Linked DNA regions of Homo sapiens. The protein of the gene in region 2 purifies or fractionates together with the protein of the main gene of each other region. This does not show direct contact. Each region holds a gene or a part of one and is shown on either strand. Other genes may lie near its edges.

Region 1 (6,931 bases), on a different chromosome or scaffold from region 2:
CTGCACAGAGGTTTGTGAACTGGAAGTAGTAAATGACAAAGCTCTTAGCAGAGATACCCCTGTGAGAGAACAAATTGGGTTCCTCACGCTAAGGGCAGGCTCTGGCCTCCTACACCTCATCTTTCTTCTTGGTGGCAGGACAATCCATGGACTGATCTATAATGCCCTGAAGTTGTTTATGGAAATGAATCAGAAGCTGTTTGATGACTGCACACAACAATACAAGGCAGAGAAGCAGAAGTGAGTATCTCTCTCCCCGGGAGACTTTCATCTTCTACCACCAGCTCACTGTGTTTCTCTCAAGCCCAACCCCAATCCTACTTTTGCTCCTCAGGGGCCGGTTCCGAATGAAGGAAAGGGAAGAGATGTGGCAAAAAATCGAGGAGCTGGCCCGGCTTAATCCCCAGGTGAGGTTTTCCTGCCACTGTTGTGAACTGAGGGGCCAGCCCATCTTGAGCTGGGGGAGAGTTTGTTGGGGGAGGAATATGGGGCACACAGGCCCCCAAGCCTCTGAAGTGGCTCTTAACGCTTGTCCATGTCTCCTCACTCAGTATCCCATGTTCCGAGCCCCTCCACCACTGCCCCCTGTGTACTCGATGGAGACAGAGACCCCCACAGCTGAGGACATCCAGCTTCTGAAGAGGACTGTGGAGACTGAGGCTGTTCAGGTGGGAGGGCAATGTAGGGGGATGGAGCAGAAATAATAGCTCTGGAAGGGAGAGGAGACAGAAACAGCAGAGCCAAAGAATAAGGGGACGGAACAATAGAATTCACTGGGAATTGGTCACCATTCCTCACCTTGTCCCTATTCACACACAGATGCTAAAAGACATCAAGAAGGAGAAAGTGCTGCTGCGGAGGAAGTCGGAGCTGCCCCAGGACGTGTACACCATCAAGGCACTGGAGGCGCACAAGCGGGCGGAAGAGTTCCTAACTGCCAGCCAGGAGGCTCTCTGACCCCTCACGTTCCTACCACAGGGCCACAGCCCACACAGCCCTGGGACACTGCCCTGGCCCTCCATACTCTGCTCCCTACTGGCTGTCTTGGGGGAAGGCAGCGCCTCTCTAGCTACTCAAGGGAGGGGGATGTGGGCACTTGAAGCAGGGACACCCACAGAATGGTCCCTCTTCTCCCCAAAAGGTGTTCATGCCTCCCTGTGGCTAGTACAGGCTGAGCACTAAGATGCTTAGTGCTCAGACAACCTGGGGATGCCTGTCCCCTACCTGCTCCTCACCCACAGCTACCTGAGGCTGCTCTGAGAAGTACACACAGGAATACATACGCTCCTCTATTCTTCCCTTCATCCTCATTTGAACGCCAGGTATCTCCCCTCCTCTCTCTCCCCTGCAGAGGCATGTAGGGAACAGCAGGAGATTATTCTCACCAAAGTTATGTCAAGCCCCATTGGTCCCAGAGTAGCTGAAGGGAAGCCAACCCCCCTGCAGCACAAATAGGCCCCCCAGTCCCAGCCGTGTGCTGGCAGATAGGGTTGTATTATTTCTTCTTACCCCATGCCTGACCAAGGGAGGTCAAAAGGAGAAAAGTATAGGCTGTGGACAATAACTGATGAATATAGGGCCCAGATGGACCAAGTGGGGCCGGGGAGGGATGAATAAACACCCTACCCCGTGCCCTGTCTTTGGTGAGCAGCAGCCCTGGGGTCACAGACATGGAAGGGACCACCCTGGGGCTGACTGCTTTTCTGTGCTGTTGGTTCCCAAAACTAGAAAGAAGGAAGCAGGGAGCGGTGCCCCAAGCATGGCTCCTGCCAACACCTATTTATTTCCTTGTTTGTGCTATGCTGGGCAGGCCTTCTCTTGTCCCTTATAGGTACCTTGGAGGGGCCAGGGGCTGAGGAAGGCCGGACCCAGGTTCCAGGGGCGCAGGCAGTGCGGCTTTTGGCTGTGTACATAGGGTGCTTTATTCTCCACAGAGTGATACATGCTAAGGTGGGTTGGGCTTGGACCGATGTCCCCATATGTACAGAACTGAATAAAGTGGGTCTCTGAGAAGTCTGATGTGCCTTGATGTGGAAAGGGAGACGGGGAAGATGGAAATGGACATTACAACCAGGGATGTGTTCAGTCCTGTGCTGGTTCTGGCCTGGAATGTAGGAATATAAGGCAGCTCTCACTGTGGTCACTTCCAGGCAGGGGATGCCTGCCGGGCTTGGAGGGCTTTCTGTACCACATCTTCCCACTGGGCATCCGATATCTCCCGAGCCCAGGCAGGAACCCCTGGCGCAGGCAGGCTTACTCCAGCCATTGTCCTTTTCACCAGCTCTACATGTTCTGAAATCAGAGCCAGAGGCCATTCAGGCATAGAAATAATGGGACCAGCTCCCCTCCCCAATCCCCGAATCAACCCAGAGCCCTTGGGCTGCTAGGGTCACCAAATCCACCTTGTTACTTTAAGGCAAGCCTGCCCATCCCCAAAGCTAGCAAAAGAGCATTTCACTTGGACTCTGAAGTCTACAAAATCTTAGTTTACAAACTATCTTTTTAGGATAGGGTCTTCCTCTGAAACTTCCTTCTACTGACTCATGCCAGTTCATTTCCTTAGTAATTATTCCAGAATGAAAGAATGATCTTTTACCTGGGTCCATGGGAATAGAGCTGTGGTTGTTCAACGCTGTAGCTCCCTCCTCATCTTCATCTTCACTCTCTAATGGTGGGTCTGGCAAATGAAGCCCCAGGGCCTGCAGAGCCACAGAAGACCGTTTGGGTCTAGGCTTTCAGGGAGCCCAGCTTCACCTGTTCAGGAACCATCCCTCCTCCACCCTACCTGGATTCGATCCTGGATGTCAGCAACTACATCTCCATCCCCCACTGGTGCCAGTTCCACCTCCTCTTGTTCAGGATCTTGGTTCAGGGGCTGGTAGGAGTAGCCAGCTGGGCCCGACCCCGTTTCCTCCTGCTCTTCCTCAGGCTCCTCACTGCTCCAATCCCCAGTGCCTTCTGAAGGGCCCTGATGTCCCAGTTCCTCAGTCTGATTGGGGAAGATACGCTCAGGGCCCATGGTGTCTCCTCCTAGAACTACTGTTGCCATCCGGGCAGGGGCTGCAAGAACAGGGAGGCGGTAGGACAGGGATCGGATGAAACCAGGCCCATCTTCATCCTCTCATCATCTCCTTGTAGTCTCCTGCGTGCAAAAAACCAGCTCCTCCCCGAGGCTCCTGCATCCTCCACCCCTCCGCCCCAATTCCAGCCTCTCGTTCCTCCCCCTCCTAAGTCGGGGTTCTTATCTTGAACCAGGCCCCACCAACTTGCTCCGCCACTTCCTAGTTAAACGCCCAACCGGAGGCCCTGCCACCTCCTAAAAGACACCCCTTCCAGAACCCCGGCTCCCCGCGCCACGCCTCCCCCGCGACTTGGGAACTCTGGGTCATCAGACTCCCCTAAACAGGTCGGCGTACCCGCCCCCTTCTCCCCTCTCCTAGAGGACCCCCTCTGTACCGCCTGACAGATGCCTTTCAGGCCCCATGGGCTCCCCTCAAATGGCCCCAGCTGCAGCGTCCCCCACCCGCCCCCATCCGAATCCCGGCGCCGGTGTTCCCGCGCGCCTCACCCGCTCAGAGCCCGCGGCCTCCACTTCCGGCGGGGCAGGACGTGCAGAGGTGCCTAGTCCTCCAGCCCCGCCCCATATCCATGATTGACGCTGGCGAGGACGAGGAGTCCGCCCCTTGCCCCGCCTCCGTCATTCCCAGCCCAAAAAACAAAGGACTGCATTACCCAGTGGCCTCCTCGGTCTCGACACATATTTGCACATGCGCAGAATCTCTCCTACGCCCCTGCCCACTCCTCAGCCCTCTCGTCCCTCAGGAAACGTATGGACTACAAGTCCCGAAATGCCTCCGGCACTTAGCTACGACTGCACGTGCGCGCACAGCTGCCCGCCGGAAGAACCGAGCTTGGCTGTGTTTATCTCGTTGGGGACTAAGGCGTCGGTTGGCGCGCAACGGGTTCTAGGCTGCAGGCAGCTCGAGGACCCGCGGCCCCGCCCCGGCTCGGCCTGGCAGGTAGCCTGGGATGGGTAGAAGGGCAAGGGAGAATTAGGGGGCTTAGGACGTGCTGTCTGGAGCTGGAGTGGCGGGGGAGGGGCCTGAGAGTGATGAGGTGGGGGTGGGGAGGGAGCTAGGGGGATGATGGGAAAGGAGAGTGTTAATGGGGAAAGCAGGGCTAGGGGAGGATGGCGAGGAGATGGGTAGGAGAGACCTGGTGTCTGGAGGAAGCAATGAAGGAAATGGGAAGGAAGACTGGGCCATGAAAACAGGGAAGCTGAGCATAATGGAAGGGGAGGGGTGTCTGGCGTGGTGGGCTAGGGGAGGCCGGAATGTCTGGAAGAAGACAGGGATAGAGTCATATGCAGAGAGGGGTATCGTGGTCAGTGCATGCTAATTTTTCTTTCCTTAGTGGAGGTGGGAAAATGGAGGGCTGTTGGGTGGAGCTTGGAATGGTAGGAGAAGGAAAAATGAGAAAACTGCAAAGCTCTCACGAGATCAAGAAGGGCGAGAAATGGGGAATAAAAAATGCAAGAGACCAGGCGGGTAGATACATTAAGGGAATAGAAGAAGTTTGAAAATGCTTGGTGGTGATGGAGGACTGGGGAGACCCAGGGATAAGAGGAGCCCCTGAGCGCCTGGGGGCTTGTTCTCCTTGAATTTGAGTTGTTTATATGGCAGAGAAACTAAAATTTTTTTTCTCCACCTTTGGCTGGAATTGCTTATCTCCTCTCCTGTGCATATTTTACTTTACCTTGACATATCTGAAGGGAAGAATAGAGAATATAAGGGAGGATGGAAGACTTCCATTCTTAAGCCCATCGACCTCCTAACAGTCTCCACAAGCCCAGACCCAAGATATTTTGGAGAGCGGGAGTAATGAAGTGAGAGTAGCTTCCTGCTGGGGCTATTTCAGGATGGGTCCCATGGCTATTTAAAGCTTAGGGTGTGGAGTTGGGGGAGGTTGGGTGGGTGGGACTAGCAAGCCAGCTGAAAGCCATGTCTCTTTCCTGCAAGGGGCCTCCCTTATTTGAGCTGTTTTAGTGCCTGAGGTTTTGCCTGGCCCTTTCCTCTGCCAGGGCTTCTTAAACAGGGAGCAGATGATGATACACCCAAACTCAGGAGATGCTTGCCAGCAAAAGCATTGTCAGTTGCAAGGATTTGCCTGAAAAAACCTCAGATGTACCCAGGTGTACGTGCCACTAGGTTGACAGGTTGTGTTTAAGAGACCATGACCAGCTGGGCATGGTGGCTCACGCCTGTAATCCCAGCACTTCAGGAGACCGAGGACGGTGGATCACCTGAGGTCAGGAGTTTGAGACCAGCCTGGCCAACATAGTGAGACCCCATCTCTACTAAAAATACAAAAATTAGCTGGGCATGGTGGCAGGCGCCTGTAATCCCAGCTACTTGGGAGGCTGAGGCAGGAGAATCGCTTGAACCCGGGAGGGAGGCAGAGTTTGCAGTGAGCTGAGATTGCACCATTGCGCTCCAGCCTGGGGGCAAGAGCGAGACTTCATCTAAAAAAAAAAAAAAAAAAAAAGACCATGACTTCTCATGCTGGATCTTTCTCTTGTCCTGCCCAAGGGCATTTTTTGCCTCCCTTCCCCTTTTTTTTTGTTTTGAGACAGAGTCTCGCTCTGTCGCCAGACTGGAGTGCAGTGGTGTGATCTCGGCTCACTCCAACCTCCGCCACCCGAGTGCAAGCAATTCTCCTGCCTCAGCCTCCTGAGTAGCTGGGACTACAGGTGCGCGCCACCGTGCCCAGCTAATTTTTGTATTTTTAGTAGAGACGGGTTTCACCATGTTGGCCAGGATGGTCTCCGTCTCTTGATCTCGTGATCCACCTGCCTCGGCCTCTCAGGGTGCTGGGATTACAGGTGTGAGCCACTGTGCCCAGCCCCTTCCCCTTTGCATTGCACACTCCCACCTCTATCCGCCTTTCAGGAACCCAAGTTGTGGAAGAGCTTGTTCTCTCTTTTCTACTGGAAATGGCTTGTTCTCTACCACAGTAGCAGGGATGGGGAAGTGGCAGGAGGAGAAAACCCCTCCCTCTATCACCATCCCCCAAGCCTAAGCATACACATACCTTTCTGGCTTAAGTCCTGGCAGCATACCAGGCACAGCTGTCAAAGGAACTCCTTGTGCCTGTGGGGGGCCCTGGGTGACCCCAATGACAACAACTCAGCTTGACAGGAGCTCCCTGTGAGGGGCTAACCAACCGCGGTAACATGGAGGTCCCTGTCCTGGATCAGTCCCGCCCTATCTTGGGTAGGGGGATTGTTCCACTCTAAAAGCCTGAAAGCTTTTCTGCTTTGAGGCACTCATGCCAGCTTTCAATGGACTGTTTGAGGCTGGCTGGGCTATTAATAGCTGTGAGTATTTTGAGATCCCTTTCCCCACCTCAAAGAACACAGATTCTTAGAGAGGTGGCAGTAAGCAGAGCAGAGACAAGAGAATATACCGTTTGGGAAGGGGGCTTCAAGTTTGTGCCAAGCCAGGGACAGAGTGGAGCCTCCACGAGTAGGTTGTGACCATGATATGCAGATTCTGAGCTGGCAATCAGGTGGGGGTGGCCCCACCCTTCACTGTTGGAGAACACTGGGCCCAGGCTGCTCCCTGACCTCGGCAGCTCCCTTGGGGCAGGGCCAGCCACCTGAGCTGAGACTAGTGCCCCTGTGGAGGGGTAGTGTGGGAGGGCCCCCAGGGTGACACTTGGAGGCAAAGGCTGGTTCTGGGCAGAGTCACAGTGAGCTGGGCAGAAGCCTCGCCTGAGGATCCCGTGGCCCCAATTTGTGTGCAGATAGCAGAGGCAGCAGGCCGTGCCGGGGGGGCATGTTGCTGTAACCAGTGGCCCAGGGGATGTTACGGTGGACAGTGCACCTGGAGGGCGGGCCCCGCAGGGTGAACCATGCTGCAGTGGCTGTCGG
Region 2 (7,009 bases):
TGATGACTCTCCATATCCATTTTCCTCTCTTCACTAGAACTTAAGTTCCATGAAGCCAGAAATTTTTTAACCACTATATCCACACATCTGGTTTAAAGCTGGTGCTTGAGAAGCCCTCGTTGGATGGCTGAATCACTCCTTAACCTCTAAGTTCCACACTTATTTCCAATCACCTACTTCTCACCTCCACTTGAACAACGAAATCCAACTTAACATGTCCAATCCAACCCCATCCCATACAACAGCCTGCTTCCCCCAACCTCTTCTTCATCTCAGTACACAGCATCATCATCCTCCAGCAGAAGCCAAAAACCCAGAATTGACCCATCCCAACTGCATGCTCATCCAAAACATGACAATTTCAATAAGTATCTTCAACTCCAAAATAAATCTCAAAACGTTTTCACTTGTACCTTAACCCTCCACAGCCACTGCTCTTCTCACTGGTCTCCTTGTGTCTCTCTTCTCCAATCAACAGTCTGATTCTCAATCAGACCTCTCAGTTTAGAAGAGTTCCAAAAGCCTTTTAATGTATCTAAGAACAAAGCCAACATGATCCAGCCCCTGGCTAGGACCCACCTTTAATCTCTTACTAGGGTCCACCTTAAGCCAATTTCAGTTTGTTCAATCCAAGTTTGATAGCACCTCAGGGTTTTTCCATTTGTTCCTCCCTAAAATAGGAAAACTGTTCCCTCAGAATTTCAAACTTCACCTCAGGAAGTTCTTTTCTGGTTACAGTATCTGAAGTAATCTCCCAATCACTACCACAACTCCTTACCTTATTTCCCACACAGCACTTATTCTCTGAGATTATTTCTTATATACTGTCTGTCTCTCCATCCCAAGCCAGAAGTGACACTCCAAGAGGATAGAAATTTAATGGGTTGGACAGGTGTGGTGGCTCACGCCTATAATCCCAGCACTCTGGGAGGCTGAGGAGGGCGGATCATGAGGTCAAGAGATCAAGACCACCCTGGCCAACATGTTGAAACCCAGTCTCTACTAAAAATACAAAAATTAGCTGGGCGTGGTGACGTGCGCCTGTAGTGCCAGCTACTCAGGAGGCTGAGGCAGGAGAATTGCTTGAACTGGGAGGTTGCAGTGAGCCCAGATCGTGCCACCGCACTTCAGCCTGGTGACAGAGCGAGACTCCGCCTCAAAAAAAAAAAAAAAAAAAAAAGAAATGTAATGTGTCTTGTTTACCCTTGTAACCTTAATGCCTGCAGCCCTGCTTGACAAATAAACCAGGTGCTTAATAAATATCTGTCAACTGCCAGACAACGCAAAAATGACTTTAAAGAAGGTCCATAACGTTTAATCTAGTGACAAACTGGTGAGGGTAAAAGACATGGATAATCTTCACATTTATAGAACACTGAAAGCCACCAGCAAGGATGGAGAATGAAGAGTATTTCAGATGCAGGAGAACATCCAAATACTCAAAAAGCAATTGAAAAGGAATTTTTCCCACGCTATGTGCATGCACATTGTAGAAATGTTCCCCCAACTCATAAACAGCAATTGAAAAAAACAAGTAATTCAAAACACTGTGGGCTGGGCGCAGTAGCTCAGGCCTGTAATCCCAGCACTTTGGGAGGCCTAAGCAGGCGAATCACCTGAGGTCAGGAGTTCAAGACCAGCCTGGCCAACATGGTGAAACCCCATCTCCACTAAAAATACAAAATTAGCCGGGCATGGTGGCGCATGCCAGTAATCCCAGCTACATGGAAGGCTAAGGCAGAAGAATTGCTTGAACCCGGGAGGCGGAGGTTGCAGTGAGCCGAGATCGCACCACTGCACTCCAGCCTGGGTGACAAGAGCAAAACTCCATCTCAAAACAAAAAAACTGTGTACTTCTCTTATCTCACGCGACTCTTTTGGAAGGATCTTCCAGATACTGTATAAGGGCAAAAGAAGCAAAGTATAGCTCATTTGTTCATGTGTCTGTCTTGAAAAGGAATGTAAGATTCTAAAGGGTAGGCAACAGTGTTTTGAATGTTTTTAAGCGATTATTATGTAGTCAGTTGTCAATCAGATCAAAGTGATTATTTCCGATACTTTACTACGAAGGTAGGCTTGGCCAGGTCTAGTTCAAAGACGTTTATGTTGAACAGTCACAATCTATAGCGAACGTTAATATTTTGCATCTTATCTTCAAAATTTAAACGCCCAGGGTACTGGCCTTCAACTGTTAATATTAATCCATGGGGCAAAGATGTGGACTTAACATTAATAACAGTCTGCAATTCACAGATGTTTTATTTGCATGCACGTAATGGTAGGGAATGGTCCAGACTCTCTAGAGGGTAAGCAAGTGCTAGAAAGCGTGTGAGGATCTTATTTCACCAGACCCTAAGGGTTGAGACAAGAAGTCTAGCATGCACGTAGGATACTCCTCCCCAAAGCTATCAATCTTTGCAGTCTGCGGAAACAAAAGTGAAAACACTCGGGGTAAGGATGCATGAGATGCCCCCCCCCACACACACACACAAACACACAGAGTTGTGTATTCGTGTGAGCACGTAAATATGTAGAAGAATACACGCACTCTCACCTTCCCTCCTTCGAAGGAAAATGGGGCCGCGGGAGAGGCGGCCAAGATCGGGTTGGGGAGGCCCGGGATCCAGTCCAGGGGGTGGCAGGGCTTACGGGTCAGCGCTCTGGGGAGCCGAGGTCACTTACAGGATACCATCTTCCCGGGCCTCCCCCTTTCATCCCTCTCCCCACACCTCGTCGCCCCCAACTCCTCTCCTCCGCCCCAGCCCCGCCACCCATTAACCGGGAAGGGAAGTTTCCCGGCGCCTGCAGCCCGGCTCCCCGACCCTCAGCGGGGTTACCTTCTGCAGAAGCAGGGCAAGGGGCAGGGGACAAGGGGAGGGGGAGGCAGCCCGAAGGAGTGAAAGACGAAGCCCCGGCGAGGAAGGTGGGCGGAGGCGGCGGCGGCGGCGGCTGTCAGCTCGCGTTCCCCTGCTCACAGCGCTGCCATTACTGTGCGCCGAGGCCGCCTCCCCGGCCGGCCGCCGCCACCGGCCCCGGAGACGCGGGGGGTGGGGAGCGAAGCCCGGGGAGCCCGCGCGCCGACACTCACCTGTCTCCGCGAGGAAAGACAGCAAAGTCCAAGGCCGCCGCCGCTCCCCGGCGGGACAGGGGCGGTAGGGAGGGGGGGAAAGGGGAGAAGGACGGGCCGATCACGGGATCCGTAAAACAATCGTCCTCCTCTGCCTCCGGCTTTGCCCAACACACACCCTCCGGTCTCCTTCTTCCGCTGCTGCCAAATCCCCCCCGCCACCCGGAAAGCAATGGTACAGGCCGCGTTACGGCAAGCGCAGGGAGCCAAGCTTCGTGTGATTGCGAAAGGCCACGGAAATTAATATTCCAAGTGATTCCTTGCTGGGCTTGCTGTCAATGAGGCAATTGCGGTTCGCTGAGCTGATGGACACAGTACCCACCCACTACCCGTTAGTTCAGGGACTGCTAATAACAATATGTTGGAATGGTGCTTTCAACAGAAGTATGTTTTCCTTGTTTCAGACCTATGTGAATATCCTAAGACACCACAATCCTCTTGCCACACACTTCCATGGGCTTTGCAAATGATCAAAAATAAATTAGCAAAACTACTTTTCCTCTCTGACAAACTCTTTTTCTTGTTAGTTTTTATCTACAGAGAATTTCTTGGACATACATGTATTTTCGATAAAGAAACTTCACATCTTTTTCACTAATACCCCACCTTCACCAAGCCCCAAGCCTATCAGTTTGAAGGGTTTTCCTCCCTTGGAGTTTTAAACGGTAAAGCTGATAAAAATATAGAATTACTCATCACCTCCTCATATATGCAGGGCCACAGAGGAACAAAAGCCCGGCCTTAGTGCTTTTTGCCTTTCATATCCTCAAGAGCTCACCATCAGGGTCTTGTTCATTTATACGATTCAGCAAGCTTTTCCCTCCCATCCCTTCCTTCCAAACTGCACGAACCCTTCAAGGCCCATTTAAAACCCTGCCTCCAGACCTGATCAGTCCCTAGAGCCTTCCTCCTCTTCTAATCTGCTTCTCTTGGTACTTGAAGTCTCTACTCTTTATTTCAGTAAAGGGTTTTTATATACGAAATTCAATCCAACAGTATGTTTCCATTATGTGACCTTTTTTTCCTCCCATGTTTTCCCCCTTTTAATCTAGTGATTCTCAAAGTGTGGTCCCCAGACCTCTGGAAATCCCTGAGACCTTTACAGAGGTCATAAGGTTAACAACTAGTTTGTTAACAATGCAATATGTCTGGTCCTTTTTTTTTTTGGATACAGAGTCTTGCTCTGTCACCCAGGCTGGAATGCAGTGGCGGCACAATCTCAGCTCACTGCAACCTGCACCTCCCGGGTTCAAGTGATTCTCCTGTCTCAGCTTCCCGAGTAGCTGGTATTACAGAAGCCCGCCACCACACCCGGCTAATTTTTTGTATTTTGTAGAGACAGGGTTTCACCATGTCACCACATTGCCCAGGCTGGTCTTGAACTCCTGAGCTCAGGCAATCCACCCACCTCAGCCTCCCAAAGTGCTAGGATTACAGGCCTGAGCCACCGTGTCAGGCCCCCCCTGCTTTTTGTTTTGTTTTGTTTTTGTTTTTGACACAGGGTCTCCCTCTGTCGCTGAGGCTGGAGTGCAGGAGTGCAGTGGCCTGATCATAGCTCACTGCGGCCTCAAACTCCTGGGCTCAAGCGAGTGTACCATCTCAGTTTCCGAAGCAGCTGTGACTACAGGCGCGTGCGCCACCACACCCAGCTAATTTTTGTATTTTTGGTAGACATGGGGTCTCACTATGTTGCCCAGGCTCCTCTGGAACTCCTGAGCTCAAGCGATCTGCCCACCTCAGCCTCCCAAAAGTTCTGGGATTACAGGAGTGAGCCACCATGCCTGGCCTCCTCTGTCTTTTTGACTGAGTTTGTTTTTGTACTGATGGTGCAAAGGAATACGGACACTATTGATGCCTTAGCAGGGATCAAGACAGTGCCACCAACCTGTCCGGGTGGTCATTGGATCGCTGTATTCTTCACTGCCATACATTCCCAGTTTTTAAGGCTATTGATTTAGGAATATCCTGGATGAAGCGGAAGCATTAATTTTATTAAATTTTGGCCCTTGAATACAAGTCTTTCTAATACTCTGTGTGAAGAAATGGGAAGTACACATGCACTTCTGCATGCCAAAGTGGGATGGCTGTCTTGAAGAAAAGCACTTGTGTGGTTGACTTACAGGCTGAACTACCTGCATTTTTCATGGTGAAACTGCCTTTGCAAAACATGATAGTAAGAGGAATCTGACCTCATTGATTTAATCTTGCTTCTGACCTCCAAGGTGTTCCTGGTCATTCCTGGGCATAGGCCAACTTAATTTGGGGAGGAAGTTAGTTTATGGTTTAACTTGAAAGCTAAGTTCCTCCCTAAAACTACCCCTGCTCTTGCTTAGGGATGAAAAACCACCTTTGGAAGACTAATGAAAAGCAGCAAGAATAGGATTATGGGAGGGGTGTGAACTTTGCTAAAGTGTAGGCATATTTCTATTAATATACTCCCTTACTGCTCAGGGGTCATGTGGCCAGAGGTCACAAGATTTGTGACTTCCCCAGTTGCTCCTATAAATAACATCAGTATTGTACAACTTTAGATTGCTTTTTGAGATATTTTTCAGACTGACCCCACCTGGACTCGTGACTCATGACTCAGAACTGGTCCTATGGCCCCACCCAGAGGCAGGCTCAGCACTCAAGGACTGTTTTCCACACCCCTATGATTCCATCCCCAACCCATCAGCAGAACCCATTCTCTAGTCCCCTGCTCACCAAATTGTCCATAAAAACCCCAACCTCCAACCCAGGGGGAGACTGATTTGAGTGATAACTCCAGTTCTCCTATGTGACTGGCCTTGGGTCAATTAAACACTTTCTCTACTGCAATACCTTGGTCTCGGTGAATTTTGTCTGTGCAGTAGCCAAGAAGAACCCATCTGGCCATTACAATGGAAGGCCATTTTTACTTGAAAGAACAATTGACAGACTTGGTGGCTCATGCCTCCCAGCACTTTGGGAGGCTGAGGTGGGCAGATCTCTTGAGTGTAGGAATTTGAGATCAGCCTGGACAATATAGCAAAACCCCATCTCTACAAAAAATACAAAATTTAGCCAGGCATGGTGGTGTGTGCTGGTAGTCACAGCTTCTTGGGAGGCTGAGGTGGGAGAATCACTTGAACCTGGGAGGCAGATGTTGCAGTGAGCCAAGATCACGCCATACTGCACCCAGCCTGGGCAATAAAGGCAGACCTTCTCTCAAAAAAAAAAAAAAAAAAAAAAGAAAAGAAAAGAAGAAGAAATTACCACTTGTTGAATTTCACTATAGTATCAAAGAAGAATATCCATAATTATCCAAAAAGACTATTTAATTTTCTTTCAAAGGCCTGAGTTTCTTCATATATTTCAACCATAGAGAACCTAGCTATCTTCTATTAAATCAAATATTTAGAGAGTTGCAAAAATACAAAAGCAATCCTTTTCCTCTGATCAAATTTTTTTTATTTTGGAAAATATGGTTATTTTTCATAAAAGCATGCAATTTATGTTAAATGTGTTTGGTTTATTATTTTTAAAATTAATCAGTAATTTAAAAATTTTTATCCTTTAAATTTCTAATACAATAACTATTTATAGATAGATAGTTTCCTGAGGCCTCCCTAGACACTGAGCAGATGCCAGGATCGTGCTTCTTGTACAGCCTGCAGAACCATGAGCCAATTAAACCTCTTTATTTCATCAATTACACAGTCTCAGGTATTTCATTATAACAATACAAGAATGGCATAATACAATAGATATAACCCACATGAACATAAGCTCTTCTAAGTCCTCGATAATTTTTTTTTTTTTTGAGATGGAGTTTCGCTCTTGTTGCCCAGGCTGGAGTGCAATGGTGCGATCTTGGCTCACTGCAACCTCCGCCTCCCAGGTTCAAGCTATTCTCCTGCC

What was found. Proteins that work in one complex are often made in the same cells at the same time.
Region 1: the proteins of CUL2 (region 2) and KLHDC3 purify together in Homo sapiens (affinity purification with mass spectrometry; 7 studies listed by BioGRID and IntAct, with this or other methods). This does not show direct contact.

The regions. Positions count from the first base shown.
Region 1 is NC_000006.12:43,010,330-43,017,260, forward strand, and holds the start of KLHDC3 (kelch domain-containing protein 3), read left to right. Parts: upstream 1-3,919; 5' UTR 3,920-4,019; intron 4,020-4,168; exon of another isoform or gene 4,169-4,885; intron 4,886-6,090; exon of another isoform or gene 6,091-6,557; intron 6,558-6,804; 5' UTR 6,805-6,863; coding exon 6,864-6,931. Other genes in the region: PPP2R5D (serine/threonine-protein phosphatase 2A 56 kDa regulatory subunit delta isoform), read left to right, coding at 139-240, 335-407, 552-668, 820-957; MEA1 (male-enhanced antigen 1), read right to left, coding at 2,141-2,292, 2,597-2,699, 2,786-3,060, 3,733-3,769. UniProt on the Homo sapiens protein: Substrate-recognition component of a Cul2-RING (CRL2) E3 ubiquitin-protein ligase complex of the DesCEND (destruction via C-end degrons) pathway, which recognizes a C-degron located at the extreme C terminus of target proteins, leading to their ubiquitination and degradation.
Region 2 is NC_000010.11:35,087,342-35,094,350, forward strand, and holds the start of CUL2 (cullin-2), read right to left. Parts: upstream 3,001-7,009; 5' UTR 2,838-3,000; intron 2,661-2,837; exon of another isoform or gene 2,555-2,660; intron 1-2,554.